Regions from separate parts of the Homo sapiens genome. Here region 2 is linked to region 1. The links come from fine-mapping of genetic effects on gene expression. A gene starts in region 1. The other region holds a variant in brackets. All regions are shown on one strand. Distances are from middle to middle.

Region 1 (8,933 bases):
GCCAGCACTTTGGGAGGCCGAGGTGGGCAGATCACTTGAGGTCAGGAGTTCGAGACCAGCCTGGCCAACATGGTGAAACCCCGTCTCTACTAAAAATACAAGTTAGCGGGGCTTGGTGGCTGATGCCTGTAATCCCAGCTACTCGGGAAGCTGAGGCAGGAGAATCACTTGAACCCTGGAGGTGGAGGTTGCAGTGAGCAGAGATTGTGCCATTGCACTCCAGCCTGGGCAACAAGAGAGAAACTCCTTCTCAAAAGAAAAATAATAAAGTAAAATAAACAAGATAAGTAAAATATATAGTTAGAGACTGATCAGTACTGAAGGGAAAACGGGGTGTCTTAGTCCATTCTGTGCTGCTGTAACAGAATAGCTGAGACTGGGTAATTTCTAAAGAACAGAAATTTATTCTCTTATAATTCTGGAGGCTGGGAAGTCCAAGATCAAGGCACCAGCGTCTGATGAGGGCCTTCTTGCTGTCCTCACATGGTGGAAGTCAGAAGGGCCAATGGGACAAATTCTGTGTCCTCACATGGCATGTGTAGAGAGAGAACCCACTCCTCCAATCCCTTTCTATAATGGCATTAATCCATTCTTGAGGGTAGAGCCCTCATGATCTAAACACCTCCCATTAGGACTCACATCCCAACATTATTGTATTGGGGATTAAGTTTCCAATGCATGAATTTTGGGGGATACAGTCAAACCATAGCAGGGGATATCAAGTGTGTGAGTCATTAAAATTGTTGTTAAATAGTTAAAATTTTAGATAGGGCGGCCAGGGAAGACCTCATCGAGACAGTGACTTTTAAGTAAAGACCTGAAAGGGACAAGCCATGTGGAAATCCAAGAGAAACACAATTCAGGTAGTGGAACAAACAAGGCAAAGCACTGAGGACCGAGTGTGTCTGGGATGCTTAAGGAACAATAGGGAGGTCATGGGCAGAAGCAAGAAGACTAGAGAGCTAATGCAAAAATCCAAGCAAGAGATGATGGTGGCTTAAACCAGAATGATGAGAAATGGTCAGATTCTAGAAATATGAATGTTAAGTCAACATTTGCTGATGGGCCATTTAGCTGATGGGCCATTACAAAGTGTAAGGGTTAGGGGAGGAGATCAAGGAAAACCCCCAAATTTTGACCTGACCAAGCAACTGGAAGGATGGCGCCCAATACATTTCTTTTTTCTTTCTTTTTCTTTCAATGAACCATGTGTACAGTTTTTCATATTTCTTCTTTTTCTCCCCACCCCCAGATTTGCATTTCTGTCACTTGCACCACAACCTCCCCACTCAATGAAAGAAATTTAGAAAGCACTGGTATTCAAAAGAACAGACGTAAAACTGCTTGAGGTTTTGCTCATCTAAAGCCTGTGTGTTCTTTGGAGGCTATGACTTTTGAGGGCAAGTCATAAAAGCTAAAGAGGCCCCTGCCCTGTTCACCAAAACACTTGTTCTAAGTTCTAAAACACTGTAGTTCTATGATTCTGAAATCTTGAAAGGATTACAATGAAAAAAATACTCTGTTTTCAAGAATCCAGCAGACACTTTTCAGAATACTAAATTTTGTATATTGTAAATATACCAAATATACTGTGAATATTATCAGTATAATGCAATTCTGTTCAGCATAATACTGGTACATTGATTGGTTGGCTGGGTGCCAAGGAACACAGCTTTCTCAGGGAACAGAAATACTCCTGGTTCTTAGGATTTAAGCTATTAACACATATCTATGCTTGAAAACCACATGCCACTTTTGTTAAATGAATTGATGCAGTTCAGCATCATAAGCTCAAACATTCACTAATTTCACCTTTTTCTGATTTATTCACTTGTTTATTAGTTCAAGGAGAGGACAGTTTAAATAGAACAATATATACACAATGATAGTTTCATGATGAGCCAAGACATTAAGTAAGACAAACAAGGCAATCTGATTTTATGTTAAACATTGGCCTGTTACTGTATTATTAAAATAATAGTGGTATTTGAGTTTGGAGCCAGTATTGTGGTCTCTGTACAAAAATAATGCCTTTCTTTGGCATCAATAAATCAGTATGCATCTATCTTAATTATATCAGCATAAAAAATAGCTTACTCTCCTTGGCAGTAAATAACATTGCCTTCAATTAGCCAAATTATATTTCTGTCTCAAACTACATCCAGTACCATATATTCCATGTCATCAGAGAAATTCTAAATTATCACTGCAGATTGTGTTTATTTTTACATTGGACTGTATCACAAACTGAACATTTAAAATATGAAAAAGGAAAAAACCTTCATATAACTGCCTCTCAGTGTGCCTCCTCTCTAAAGCTTCTAGGCTGCTTTCTCCACTGGGCTGCAGACCTTCCTGTCTAGTAGCTCTTGGACACCATGTGTCCCAAACTGAACTCATCCCTTCCCTCCAGCTGCCCCTATTCCTGTGTTCTGTGTATCTATTCATGACATGTCCATCCACCTGGTCAGCCACGTTCAAAACTTGAATCTTTTGACTACTCACTATACTTCACTTCCTATATCCAATTGGTTGCCAAATACTGCCCACTGAACAGCTTCCAAGCATCTAATCTCTCTCTTCTTTATCTACTGCTGGAATTCTCTTCCTGAAGCCCAGATTTATGTTATTATTTGCCTTACATTTTCCTCCCATTTTCTATGGAATGGCCTAACTCCTTAGAATGGTACCAAGATTTTCCACAGTTTGGCCATTCCTTTCCACCCCACTGCACCTTGTTTTCATTGTCCTCAGAATTTCATTTATAAAGGTGACTGGGTGATGACAATCAATGAGTTAGTGGCCAATGCCTTTGAAAATTTTATTATAGTTCTCAAGAGAAGGGGCTGTGCCTACGGCCACACGAGAAAGTATTAGGGTCAATGAGGAGGTAGAGAGAGCGAGGAGAAAGCCCAGAGCCTTTATTGCCGTGGGAAGGAATGGGCGAAGCAGGGAAGGGAAGTCTGAACAAGCTTAGGATTGAATAATTTGAATAATGTTGGCAAGCTCTGGGATATAGAGGTGAATTTTAGTTGTCTGGTACTTGGCCATGGGGTGGTTTATTACAGTGACTTGGGGCAGGGAAAATATTGGTGTGTGAGATGGATAAAGATGGTGTGGGGATATAGGCTTGGGTTGGTTGGTTTGTAAATGAAAGGGGTGTTCACAAGCAAGTTGTTTGCTATCTCTAGGAATTAGCTAACTCTGAAAGGGGCAATTCCTCCCCAGGTCCCCAAGGCCCCAAGATGTCAAAGCATCATAAAATACAGAAAACAGAAACTAAAATCCATGGTTAATACACACCTCCCTTCACACACACCCTTTACTCCCGGCTCCAGTAGCCCCAGAAATGCTCTAGACGAAGTAAGTTCTGTAGTGCATCTCTCAACAATATGCCGCCACCCATAGCCCTGGCTGAGGAGAGCCACCAAACCTGGTACTATGCGACCATGGTCCTTCCCCTGGTCACTGGATAGTGATCGCACCCAACACAGGCACCCCCATCTACAGGGTGGCTGGAGATCTATGACCATTGTGGCGTACCTGGACCAATCAATAAACTGGACCAATTGGATTTCCATTTTTAGGGATTTAAATTCAGAGCCACAAAAGGAGATTGTCAGTTGATGATGAGCTAAGACACCCTGAAGTATACTCACAACCTTAGCAAGCCATGTGCAGTCTAGTGCTCCACCCCTCTACCCACCCCGTCCAACCCCCACCAAAATACTAACAAAATACAACACACTAGTTCATCATCTAGACCATAATAACTCGCTGGGGATAGTGCTGGAAGTTTTTGTTTGTTTAACATTTCTTTCAAATACTAAGATTAACGGAGTTGCATAGTGAAAAAAACTGTAGGAAAGGGTCGGACTTAGGCCTGGAGTGAAGGGCACAAGATGCTTTTATTTTAAACCCCTAAAAGTGTTGCAAAGTGTTTTTAATTTCATATAAATAGTTAAGGATCACATGAACACAATCCAGTACAAATGGGTCCAGGAGCTTCAACGAGCGTTCCAGCTTCTTCGTAACGTTCCCACACCGTGCAGCAAGCGGAGGGAAGAGAACTTCCGGCGCCCCCACCTACCGCTCCCCAGCCGTGTCCCGCTGCTCTAAATCTGCAGACTTGATCGATTGCTTCTGCCTGGGCGGTACCGCCCGAATTGACTGCTCCTGTCTGATGCGTCCCCGGGCGCGGGAAACGAGTTTCAATCCACTTTCCTGACCCCAACCATCCTGCCCAGTCTCCGCTTCCCCGTCTTGTACACCCCTAACTCCTGAGGCTCCTCCGAATCACGCGAGTGGAAGCGGAGAAGCTCAAGTGGCCGCCATGTCAGAGGCTTATTTCCGAGTGGAGTCGGGTGCGCTGGGGCCTGAGGAGAACTTTCTTTCTTTGGACGACATCCTGATGTCCCACGAGAAGCTGCCGGTGCGCACGGAGACCGCCATGCCTCGCCTTGGCGCTTTCTTCCTGGAGCGGAGCGCAGGCGCCGAGACTGACAACGCGGTCCCACAGGTGAGCCTTTGGGTGCGGGGTCCTGCCCGGAAAGACTGCAGCTCCCGGCGGGCCCCTCGGCCCTGGGACGCCGCATCGGGGCGCGCTGCCCTTTGGGATTTGTAGTTTTCGAGGAGCCAGGGCCGAAGGCGCTAACGACTTCTCGGAAACTCCGCGGGGGTCCCTTCGCGCTCGGGGTGGTCTCCAGACTTCTTGTTCGCCATCTGTGGTGAAACTACATTTATCCTAGGTCGCCAGGCAGCCTCCAACATTGATTTCTTTTTTGAAACTGTCCAAATTAGTGTCTTCCCCCTACCCCATGCAACGTGTGTTGAATGCTTAAAGATTGGCTCCAGCTGAATACTTAAGAATTAGAGTTCTGATCATGTTTGCCTTAAAACAGCTTTGGGTTCTGTAAGAGCATGTGATAAGTAGGAACCCCAAGTTGCTAAATTCATTCCTCCATAATGATGACAGGATCAGTAAGCCCTACTGAGGCTTACTTAGTGGCAGCATGGTTGGGTGTGGGGAGTAAGCTTTTCCCTTTAATCCTTCAGCAACCAGAAAGGCTGGGTCACTTGGCCAGGGCTTCAGTTAGTGGTGAGCTGGGATTCGGAACCCAAGGCCATATGGCTTCAAATATAAAATTGTCCCAGGAACATGGCTTGTAATGATTAATTTGGATATCCTGTTTCACCTAAGTTTTGTATAGAACGATGTTTATTGTTTGGTCTGTTTGTTTCAAGTTAATTTTTATCAAAGTAATACATAACCAACGTTTTAAAAGTCAAATAGGCCGGATGCGGTGGCTCACGCCTGTAATCCCAGCACTTTGGGAGGCTGAGGCGGGCGGATCACGAGGTCAAGAGATCCAGACCATCCTGGCCAACATGGTGAAACCCCATCTCTACTAGAAAGCTGGGTGTGGTGGCCGGCGCCTGTAATCTCAGCTACTCTGGAGGCTGAGGCAGGAGAATTTCTTGAACCCAGGAGGCAGAGGTTGCAGTGAGCCGAGACTGTGCCACTGCACTCCAGCCTGGCGACAGAGTGAGACTCCATCTCAAAAAAAAAAAAAAAAAAAGTCAAATAGTACCAAAAGATTTATAAGAAAAAAAATAGCAGGTCCTGCCTTCCTTTTCCCACTTCCCCCTCCAAGTCCACAGGGCTCATGTACCTTTTTTAGTGGTGTCTTCAAGATTCATCTTCATATTTCTAAATAATATTCTTAAACTTACCTTGTTGGGTTGTTTTTTTTAATGTAGACATTATCTGTTGACTTCATCCTAGCAGATGAGGATTTCGTTCCCATACACACTGGTAAACATGGCGCTATGCTGCCCATACTTAATTCATATTTCCTTAGTTTTTAGTTAATGCCCTTTTTCTATTCTAGGATTCCACCTAGGATACCACACTGCATTTAGTAGACATGTTTCCTTAGCCTTCTCTTGGTTGTGACAATTAATCAGACCTCCTTGTTCTAATGACCTCGACGGTTTTGTGGAGTGGTGGTCAGGTATTTTGTAAAATGTTCCTCAGTTGGAAATCTTTGGTTTGGGGGTAGTTTTGTTTTTGGTTTTGTTTTTTTGTTTGTTTTTTTGACACGGAGTTACCCTGTCATCTAGGCCAGAGTGCAGTGGCATAATCTCAGCTCACTGCAGCCTCCTCCACCTCCTGGGTTCAAGCAATTCTGCCTCAGCCTCCCAAGTAGCTGAGATTACAGGCGCCCACCACCACACCCAGCCAATTTTTGTATTTTTAGTAGAGATGAGGTTTCACCAGGTTGGCCAGGCTGGTCTGGAACTCCTGACTTCAAGTGATCCACCCAACTCAGCCTCCCAAAGTACTGGGATTACAGGCGTAAGCCACCTCGCCCAGCCTTCTTTGTTTTTGTTTTTTATTCTTTTTTTCTCAGCATTAGACTTGATTATCAGCTTTAGGGAGGAAGACCACAGAGGTAAAGTGCCATTTTCATCACATATTAAGGGTGCCTACTATCAACAGGACTTTGTACTGTTCATTTGAACCTTGGCAGAGGTAATGTTCATTAGGTTTCTCCACCTTTTCATACTGTACTCTTTGGATGGAAGTCATTATCACTGTCACACTGAAGGAGTAGGGAGTTATGTTCCACTTCTTTGAGTGCAGAGTGTCTACATTAAATCTTTAGAATCCTTCTGCATGGGAGATTTGTGTAGGAAGGTTTGTATGACATTTAATTTCATTTATAGGATTATTCAGACTTGATTTCTTCTTGTGTTAGTTTTGGTATATTTGGTTTTTAACTAAAACTTTGACCATTTTATCTAATTTTTTTTTTTTTTTTTTGAGACAGGGTTTTGCTCTGTTGCCCAGGCTGGAGTGCAGTGGTGTGATATGGCTCACTGCAGCCTTGACCTCCCAGGCTCCAGAGATCCTCCCACCTCAGCCACCTATGTGGCTGGTATTGCAGGTACATGCCACCATGTCCAGCTAATTTTTGTATTTTTTTTTTGTCTAAATTTTCTTTTTTTTTTTTTTCTATTTGTACATTTGAAATTCTTCTGTAATATTTGTATATATATATATATATTTTTTTTTTAATTGATCATTCTTGGGTGTTTCTCGCAAAGGGGGATTTGGCAGGGTCACAGGACAATAGTGGAGGGAAGGTCAAGCAGATAAACAAGTGAACAAAGGTCTCTGGTTTTCCTAGGCAGAGGACCCTGCGGCCTTCCGCAGTGTTTGTGTCCCTGGGTACTTGAGATTAGGGAGTGGTGATGACTCTTAACGAGCATGCTGCCTTCAAGCATCTGTTTAACAAAGCACATCTTGCACCACCCTTAATCCATTCAACCCCTGAGTGGACACAGCATATGTTTCAGAGAGCACAGGGTTGGGGGTAAGGTCACAGATCAACAGGATCCCAAGGCAGAAGAATTTTTCTTAGTACAGAACAAAATGAAAAGTCTCCCACGTCTACTTGTTTCTACACAGACACAGCAACCATCCGATTTCTCAATCTTTTCCCCACCTTTCCCCCCTTTCTATTCCACAAAGCCGCCATTGTCATCCTGGCCCGTTCTCAATGAGCTGTTGAGTACACCTCCCAGACGGGGTGGTGGCCGGGCAGAGGGGCTCCTCACTTCCCAGTAGGGGCGGCCGGGCAGAGGTGCCCCTCACCTCCCGGACGGGGCGGCTGGCTGGGCGGGGGGCTGGCCCCCCCACCTCCCTCCCGGACAGGGCGGCTGGCTGGGCAGAGGGGCTCCTCACTTTCCAGTAGGGGCGGCCGGGCAGAGGCGCCCCTCACCTCCCGGACGGGGCGGCTGGCCGGGCGGGGGGCTGACTCCCCCACCTCCCTCCCGGACGGGGCGGCTGGCTGGGTGGGGGGCTGACCCCCCCACCTCCCTCTTGGACGGGGCGGCTGGCCGGGCAGAGGGGCTCCTCACTTACCAGTAGGGGCGGCCGGGCAGAGGCGCCCCTCACCTCCCAGACGGGGCGGCTGGCCGGGTGGGGGGCTGACTCCCCCACCTCCCTCCCGGACGGGGCGGCTGGCCGGGCAGAGGGGCTCCTCACTTACCAGTAGGGGCGGCCGGGCAGAGGCGCCCCTCACCTCCCGGATGGGGCGGCTGGCCGGGCAGGGGGCTGACCCCCCCACCTCCCTCCCGGACGGGGCGGCTGGCTGGGCAGAGGGGCTCCTCACTTCCCAGTAGGGGCGGCCGGGCAGAGGCGCCCCTCACCTCCCGGACGGGGAGGCTGGCCGGGCGGGGGCTGACCCCCCCACCTCCCTCCCGGACGGGGCGGCTGGTCGGGCGGGGGCTGATCCCCCCCACCTCCCTCCCGGACGGGGCGGCTGGCCGGGCGGGGGGCTGATCCCCCCACCTCCCTTCCCGGACGGGGCGGCTGGCCGGGCGGTGGGCTGACCCCCCGACCTCCCTCCCGGACGGGGCGGCTGGCCGGGCGGGGGGCTGACCTCCCCACCTCCCTCCCGGACGGGGCGGCTGGCCGGGCGGGGGGCTGACCCCCCCACCTCCTTCCCGGACAGGGCGGCTGGCCGGGCAGAGGGGCTCCTCACTTCCCAGTAGGGGCGGCCGGGCAGAGGCGCCCCTCACCTCCCGGACGGGGCGGCTGGCCGGGCGGGGGGCTGACCCCCCCACCTCCTTCCCGGACGGGGCGGCTGGCCGGGCAGAGGTGCTCCTCACATCCCAGTAGGGGTGGCCGGGCAGAGGCGCCCCTCACCTCCAGGAGAGGGCGGCTGGCTGGGCGGGGGGCTGACCCCCCCACCTCCCTTCCGGACAGGGCGGCTGGCCGGGCGGGGGGCTGACCCCCACCTCCCTCCTGGATGGGGTGGCTGCCGGGCGGAGACGCTCCTCACTTCCCAGACGGTGTAGCTGCCGGGCGGAGGGGCTCCTCACTTCTCAGACGGGGTGGTTGCCAGGCAGAGGGTCTCCTCACT
Region 2 (8,933 bases), 35 kb after region 1:
TTCACCATCGCCTCCCACACCCACACCCAGCTCCGGGAGGTAACAACATCAACAAACAGATGGCTTCCCTCCAGTTCCTTTCAACGCCTTCATGCTCACATGTAGTCCTTTATGTAGGTTGGATCCTATTATACATTCTGTTCTGTGCCCTCCCTTTTTTACCTAACAATATCTCGGAGATCTATCTACCTTATTCTTGTTTAACAACCACAGAGGTTTTCAGAGTAGGGAAAGATCATATTCTATTTAACCACTCAACTTCTCTGAAGGATTTGGGCTGTTCATAAATTTTCACAACGTTACGGTGAACGTCACAGGACTTACATGCAGCCGCATGTGCAAGGATTTCTGTAGTGCAGACTTCTGGAAAGGTGGAATTGATGGAGCATAGAGTAAGTACATTTAAAATTCTGATAGGGGGCCGGGCGCGGTGGCTCATGCCTATAATGCCAGCACTTTGGGAGGCAGAGATGGAGGACTGCTAGAGTTCGAGACCAGTCTGGGCAACATAGCAAGACCCACATCTCTTAAAATTCTGATAGGGACTACCAAATTTTCTGCCCAAAGTCTGCCTTTTTCTAAAAACAAAAAGTATATTTAATGACAAAAGTAACATTCCTGTAAACATGTAATGAATACAAACAAGACCAGAAAATAAGTTTTAAAACACCCAGAATTTCATTACCTAGAAGTGGCGATATTAACATACATAGTCAATTTGAGTCATTTTACCATGCATATAGGTAGAGATAAATTTTTAATGAAAATGTGGTCAGAACGTAGACTCTTTAGTAACCTGCCTTTTGCAGTTAACTATATGCAACAAAGCTCTTTCCAAGTCATTAAAGATTCTTGGATTTTGTTTTGTTTTGTAAAGATGGGCTCTCACTAGGTTGACCAGGTTGGTCTTGAACTCCTGGCCTCAAGCAGTCCTCCCATCTCAGCCTCCCAAAAAGCTGGGATTACAGGCATGAGCCACTGCACCTGGCCTAAAGATACATCTATGGTGACATTCCAGATTCTTAACATCATTTAGGGACAAGAAAAGGGAAGCTTATGTGGAAGGAAGGAAGGTAAAAAATTTTTTTAAGACTATGCTAAAAGCAGCATTGACAATTCCTAACTTTGCTTATGTAGGAAAATTATTCTACAACCCTGGTTCCTGGAGGTCTTTGAGAATCTGATAAAGCTGAGGCGGGTGCATCACATGAGGCCAGGAGTTCGAGACCAGCCTGGCCAACATGGTGAAACCTCATCTGTACTAAAAATACAAAAATTAGCTGGGCGTGGTGGCAGGCACCTGTAATCCCAGCTACTCAGGAGGCTGAGGCAGGAAAATTGCTTGAACCCGGAGGCAGAAGTTGCAGTGAGCTGGGATTGCGCCCCTGCACTCCAGCCTGGGCAACAGAGCAAAACTCTCTCGAAAATAAAAAGAGTATGGGCTCTTGATTCAGACACAAGAAACACAACTTTGAATCCTGGCTTTACTACATACTCTTCAAACCCTCCGCCTGTTTCTTCACTTGTAAAATACAGACGATAATCAGCAGGTTCTAGGGTTGCTGTGAAGTTTAAATAAGTTCATACACATAAAATGTTTGCAACAAGGTCTACACACAGTAAGTGGTAATTAAATGCCAGCTCTCATTATTTCCAGTGTTTTGCCCTTGTGACATTTCTAACCATATCTTTGTGCACATCTGTGATTACTTCCAAAGGATAAATTCCTAGATGTAGAATAGCTGGGTGGAATCATGAGCATGTTTATGAGATTTGGTTTTGGTTTTTTTTTTGTTTGTTTGTTTGAGACAGAGTCTCACTCTGTTGCCCAGGCTGGAGTGCAGTGGCGCAATCTCAGCTCACTGCAACCTCTGCCTCCTGGGTTCAAGTGATTCTCCTGCCTCAGCCTCCTGAGTAGCTGGGATTACAGGCATGCGCCACCATGCCCCACTATTTTTTTTTTTTTTTTGTATTTAGTAGAAACGGGGTTTCACCATGTTGGCCAGGCTGGTCTCGAATCCCTGACCTCAAATGATCCACCCGCCTCGGCCTCCCAAAGTTCTGGGATTATAGACGTGAGCCACTGAGCCTGGCCATGTTTATAAGATTTTGGATACATGATGCAAAACTCTTCTCTAAAGCCTCAGATTCAATGATGGTTCTAGGACTGGTTAACAGTGGTAAAGAAAATGCACAAAAATCCTTGCCCTCCTGGAGTTTCCATTAGAAAGGGAGTAGACAGTCAAACTGAAAATGTGATCTATTGGGAGGTGACAAGTGCTATGGAGGAAAATAAAGCAGGGCTGGGCTTAGGAGGGCTGAGACAGGGTGGGGGCTGCAGTTCTACAGAGGGTGGTCGGGGGGCTTCCCTGAGAAGGTGACATTGGAGCACAAAGACTTGAAGGAGGGAGGGAAACATGCAGACGCCTGAGGGGAGAGTGTTCCAGGCAGAGGGAATAGCATGTGCAAAGGTCCTGAGGCAGGAACTTGCCTGAGTGGAGGGGGGAGGATGGGAGGAGAAGAGGATAGAGCAGCGAAGGGGTGGGACATGTCATGGAGGGCCTGGTGGGTTGAATCGAGCTACACTTTTTTTGTTTGTTTGAGACAGAGTGTTGCTGTGTTGCCCAGGCTCGAGCGCACTGGCACGATCTCGGCTCACTGTAACCTCCATCTTCCAGGTTCAAGCATTTCTGGTGCCTCAGCCTCCCAAGTAGCTGGGACTTAAAGGCATACACCACTAGACATGGCTAATTTTTGTATTTTGGGTAAAGACGGGGTTTCGCCACGTTGGCCAGGCTGGTCTCGAACTCCTGACTTCCAATGATCCACCCGTCTTGGCCTCCCAAAGTGCTGGGAGGGAGCAGTGTTAATTTCATACCACTGTAGCTCTAGGAAGGGTGAAGCAGGCATTCAAAAAGACAATGAGAACTAATCAAAATTGTGTTTTCCTTGTTTCAACTTGTGCTTAAAAGCACTAAAAGGAAGTGACGACTCTCATTGTTTCCCAAGAAAATCAGAGGTTCCTTGTTTTCTCAGTAAAACATGCGAATATTTCAGATACTCAAATCCAGATACTTTTTTCCTAAAACACTAAGAACCAAGAGTAAAATGAAAAGACACACACCTGTTTTGTTTGTTACTGGGTGGTGTTCTCAGAAAAACCATCTGCCAGGCATGCAACCCGAGGCAGTGTCTATCAGGGGAATGTAGGGCTGAGATCACAGTGCCCATGATAGAGGGTACCCGTGCCCAAGGCCTCATCCCTCCTCTTCCTGCCACACGTCCCACCACAAAGCCTCAGTCTCAGAGACACATGCAGAGGGCAGAAAGGCCAGCTCGGAGATTACAGTTCAGGGTGAGGAAGTAGCAAACCACAGGTTCATCTGGCGGACCACTGTGGCTGAAATAAGTGAGCTAGAATTTCCACGCACTTCCCCAAACAGCAGAATCTGTGCCTTGAAGAAACTAGGAAGTTCCAGGGACTTGGGAAGGACCAGAGTTTGACCTGAAATGGTTATAAATGAGGGGAGGGCCAGGTAAGGTGGCTCACACCTGTAATTCCAGCACTTTGGGAGGCTGAGGAGGGTGGGTCACTTGAGGTCAGGAATTGGAGACCAGCCTGGCTAATGGCAAAACCCCGTTTCTACTAAAAATATAAAATTTAGCCGGGTTTGGTGGCAGGTGCCTGTAATCCCAGCTACTTGGGAGGCTGAGGCAGAAGAATTGCTTGACTCTGAGAACTGGAGGTTTCAGTGAGCCAAGACCACACCACTGCACTCCAGCCTGGGCAACAGAATGAGACTCTGTCTCAAAAAAAAAAAAAAAAAAAAAAAGAAAAAAAAGAAAGGAAGCAAATATTGGTATAGTATGAAGGCTGGGGTTGTGGTCCCAGCTACTCGGGATGCTGAGGTGGGAAGATCGCTTGAGCCTGGAAGGATGAGGCTGCAGTGAGCTATGATGGCACCACTGCTGTCCAGCCTGGATAACAGAACGAGACCGTTTCTCAAAAAAAAAAAAGAAAAGAAAAGAAAAAATTGAGGCTGGTAAATGTGCCTGATGGCTTAGGGGGTCAAAAATGCGCCCTGGCTTGATGAAGTGGCTTCTCCACTATTACCAGCATTTCCATCTGTTGCTTTGCTTGTCAACAATATGTCACTGATCACCTACTGTGCACAGGCACAGGGCCAGGTGCCCAAAGAGAGGACAGAAAGAAATATATCTGGAGGAGCTGCCAGTTCCTGCAGGGGACGGAGGG[A/G]CACTCTGAACCACAAGAGCCTTGGCAAAGTGCCCCTCAAGACTTCCCTTCTCCAAGTTAACACTTATCAGCTTGTTCTTTTTCTCCTCCTTTCCTTTCCCCTTTTCTTTGTCTCCATTCTCTCTCCTTCCTTCCCTCTCTTCTTCTTTCCTTCCTTCTTTCTCTTTTGCAGATTGGTACAGCTTTATCATCAAGAAGTTAGAGTTCACATAATAATTTGTCTTGATAACTGTACCTTAGTTCAATTTCGTTTTTAGCAGAAATAACAAGTGCTTGTTGAAAAGATAAAACCATATGAAAACATCAAAATAAACCTAGCAAATCCTCACTATCTCCATGCCCCACTCTTCCTCTCCTGAGAATCACTATTAACAACTTACCATTTACTTTCCAGGTAAGACTTTTCTCCCCCATGCATACACATATTTCTGTATACAGTTTTTAGAAAGTGAATATGAATTCTTCCTGTTTAACTTACTGGTGTGTTCTCAGCTCCTGGCACATAGTAGGCATTGAAAGCATTTCTTGAACAAATAAATTATGAATTTCTGAAAATTATCTCTTATTCAAAAATACATCATGGGCCGGACACAGTGGCTCAAGCCTGTAATCCCAGCACTTTGGAAAGCTGAGTCAGGTGGATCACTCGAGGTCAGGGGTTCGAAATCAGCCTGGCCAACATGGTGAAACCCCGTCTCTTTCAAAAAATACAAAAATTAGCTGGGTTTGGTGGCATAAGTCTGTAATCCCAGCTGCCCGGGAGGCTGAGGTGGGAGAATCGCTTGAACCCAGGAGGGAGAGGTTGCAGTGAGCCAAGATCACGCCACTGCACTCCAGCCTGGGCAACAGAGTAAGACCCTGTCTCAAAATAAATAAACAAATAAATAATACATCGTGGACATCCTTCCATGTCACCTACCTCCATCTTTTTATGGCTGTGTGATATTCCATAGAATGGCTGCGTCATTATCCAACCAGAACCCTGTTGTCAGATGTTAGGCTGTCTCTGTGTTTTCATTGTTTGAGATGATTGTTCCTACATCCTTGCACACTTGTGTATTCTGTAGGCAAGTGTAGAGGACAGAATAATGGCCTTCCAAAGATGCCCACATGCTAATGCTCAGAACCTGTGAATTTGTTACCTTGCATGACAAGAGACTTGCAGACGTGCTTAAATTAAGGCTCTTGCGGTAGGTGGGGGGAGGTGATCCTGGATTGTGGGGTAAGCCCATTATAATCATAAGGGTCCTTGTAAGAGAGAGGCAAGAGAGTCACAGAGCAGGCCATGTGATGCAGAAGCAGAAGGGAAGAAGGAGATGCAGTGACAGAAGCAGAGGCCAGAGTGATGCCATTGTTGAAAGGACTACAAGCCAAAGGAGGCCTCTAGAAGCTGGAAAAGGCGAGGAAATGAAGTCTTCCCTGTAGCCTCCAGGATTGTGGCCTTGCCAACCCATTGGACTTCTGTCCTCCAGAACTATGAGGTTATGAATTTGTGCTCCTTAGCCTGCCCAGTTCGTTATTGTGATTTGTTATCGCCACAATAAGATGCAAACTGAGCCAGAGACCTAGAAATGAAATTGCTGGCATCTTAGTCTGTTCAGGCTGCTATAAAAAACACCATACCCTGGGTGGCTTATAAAGAGCAGAAATTTACATTTGACAGTTCTAGAGGCTGGGATGTCCAAGATCAAGATGACAATAATTCCTTGTCTGGTGAGGGCTGTTTCCTAGTTCATAGATGGCACTTTCTGGCTGTGTCCTCCCATGGTGGAAGCGGTTAGTTAGCTCTCTGTGACCTCCTCCATGAGGGCTCTGCCTCATCACCTCCCAAAGCACCCCACTTCCTAATACCATCACTTTGGTGATATGAATTTGTCACGACAGCTGGGGGAGATGTAAACCTTCAGACCAAAGCACTGGCTCAAAGACTAAATTCATTTTCTAAATTCATGCACCATCACTCATACACACAGCGGTTTCCATCCCGCTCACTGCCCTCCAGCTGCTGTCTAATATTTCTATGACCTTCTCAAAATGTCAATCCCAGAACGACCTGCCTGTCCACACACTGCTGACCCGTGCATAGTAAGCATTCTGCTGGGTTTGATCAGCATCCTTGGGAACTGCACATTAAGCTGTGCTCATTCAGCTAGAAATGACCTGAGCGCTTCAGTCTTCAGTCACGCCTCTGCTGTCCTATTCTCGTGCCATTGGTTTGTTTTTGACATTGGGGCAGAACTTTACTTTTATCCCTCCTAAATTTCACATTGTCTAAGTAAAATGGGGAGAGATGAGAATCTTCAGTGTCAAATTACTGAGTAGTTCTTTGTTGCCATTTCATTTCCATGAGTTTTTGGAGAATGGAAAGAGCAGGTGGATTTGGCCCTTAAATCTCATAGGGAAAAAGAAAGTGAATAGAAATAACATCATAAATAATAGAGAGGGTAAAAGCCTCCATATCAGAAATGGCTCAACCTCAGGGATTTTAACGCCTAAGAAGTGATATTTATTTTTTATTTTTTATTATTTTTTTGAAACAGGGTCTCACTCTGTCGTCCAGGCTGGAATGCAGTGGCACGATCTTGGCTCACTGCAGCTTCGGCCTCCTGGGCTCAAGTGATCCTCCCACCTTAGCCTCTCAAGTAGCTGGGACTACAGGCACACAGCTAATTTTTGTTGTTGTTGTTGTTGTTGAAACAGGGTTTCACCATGTTGCCCAGGCTGGTCTCAAACTCCTGACCTCAAACGATCCGCCTGCCTCGGCCTCCCAAAGTGCTGGGATTACAGGTGTGAGCCACCGCACCTTGATCAGAAGGGATATTTATACAGGAAAGCTCCATAGGACAGTCCAGCTCAGCAGGGACTGGTTTAATGTTGGGAATTCTATTTTGTCATTAGTTCCAGAGCAGCCAAGCCACCAAAATATCACTTGGATGCTGCCAGCTTCCTCCAGTGCAGGTAGAGGAGGTGTCCTGGGAGCCCACAGGCTGCATTCCCATGAGACAGACGCCCCCATCAGTCCCCTAGGACCCCGCCCAGTATAGGGCAAGCAAGCTCTCAATGGTTGACAGTCCCTTGGGTCTTTATGTCCTGACTAGGAATAGGAGGTCTTACAAAACTGAAACAAGTTAGAATTTGAAGAGGGCTAATTCCATCCCGGCCCCTCCTTTTACAGACAGGAACCGAGGCTGGGTCATCGGCTCCAGAATTTACCAGGCTGTGCATTGTAGAACCTCCTCATGGACGGGCTCTGTGTGCAGGCTTTACTCTGGCCAATGGCAGGTGCGTTACCAGACAGGAACGCTTCTGGACAATGCTCCCCGACTCTTGTGTCAGAAGCACTGGATTCCTTTCCTGTGGCTGTCGTAACAAAACACCACAAACTAGGTGGCTTAAAACAACAGCGATTTATTCTCTCACAGTTCTGGGGGCTAGAAATCCAAAATCAAGGTGTCAGCAGGGCCACGCTCCCTCTGAAGGCTCTAGGGGAGAATCCTTCCTTGCCTCTTCCTAATTTCTGGTGGTTTCCTTGGCCGCAGCTGCGTCAGTCTGATCTCTGCCTCCATCGTCACACACGGTCTTCTGCTGTGTGTCACCGTGCTCTCTTCGTTCTGTGCATGGCTGTCTCTGTGGCCAAATTTTCCCTTTTATAGACACCAGTCATATTGGATTAGAGCCCACCCTAATGAGCTCTTCTTGAATTGATGACATCTGCAAAATTCCTATTCCCAAAATAAAGTCACATTTACTGATATGGGGGTGAGGACTTCAACATATATTTTTTATTATTTATTTATTTATTGAGATGGATTCTCATTCTGTCACCCAGGCTGGAGTGCAGTGGTGTGATCTCAGCTCACTGCAACCTCCACCCCCCAGGTTCAAGCAATTCTCCAGCCTCAGCCTCCCGAGTAGCTGGGGCTACAGGCATGCGCCATTGTGCCTGGCTAATTTTTGTATTTTTAGTTGAGACAGCGTTTCACCATGTTGGCCAGGTTGGTCTTGAACTCCTGACCTCAGGTGATCCACCCACCTCAGCCTCCCAAAGTGCTGATATTACAGGCATGAGCCACCACACCAGGACTTCAACATATATTTTAGAGATGCAGTTCAACTCATAACAAGCACCTTCTACCAGGAGACAGAATGAAGCTGGTAACAAAGGCCCAGAGACACTGGTTCCTTTAGCCAGAGCCTGGTGATACTGCGGAGTACCTCGACAGGCAACCCTGAAACTAGTATCCCTGGGCCAGATGTTTAATGGGCATGTAAGAGGCTGTCCCTGAGTCAGAGCTTGCAGAAGGAGGGGCTGGTACAAGGTCCAGCCTCTCCTCAACTGTCCTGAGCCCCTAACTCAGCAAAACAGAAGCCCTGGCGTTCTTCAGCCACCTGCCATAGGGTCCAGCAAGCAATTGTCATGACTACTTACTCACATCCTTGCCATCTTTCCTCCCTCACTCCAAGAGGCTCACCAAAGCACCCCTCCCTACCCCACACACGGCTTTCCCTGAGAAGAGCTCTGATTAATTCATATGGTTGCCTCCTTCTCATGGCATTTCCAATATGTCATGGTGCCCCTTACTGACTGGCCTCCCAGGCAGCTCTCGGGCTTGCAGCTCTCAGCCTTGGGGAACGAGGCTGCACCATGTCCAGGGCCTTGCTGCCTGGGTGCTTACTG

The links.
Region 2: its variant is fine-mapped to the expression of GINS3 in skeletal muscle (GTEx, PIP 0.94).

Annotation. Positions count from the first base shown.
Region 1 is chr16:58,388,269-58,397,201 of GRCh38, forward strand. It overlaps GINS3 (GINS complex subunit 3), which reads left to right and starts at 4,203. Exons shown (of 3, transcript NM_022770.4): 1 at 4,203-4,519. The coding sequence starts at 4,334. RefSeq lists enhancers at 3,842-4,419, 4,026-4,515, 4,420-4,996, 7,025-7,670.
Region 2 is chr16:58,422,957-58,431,889 of GRCh38, forward strand. All of the region lies in intron 1 of LINC02137 (long intergenic non-protein coding RNA 2137), which reads left to right. Among named protein-coding and RNA genes, the nearest start is that of LINC02137, 6.1 kb to the left of the region's middle. RefSeq lists silencers at 3,229-3,328, 3,399-3,478. The variant A/G (reference allele first, on the strand shown) is at 4,256.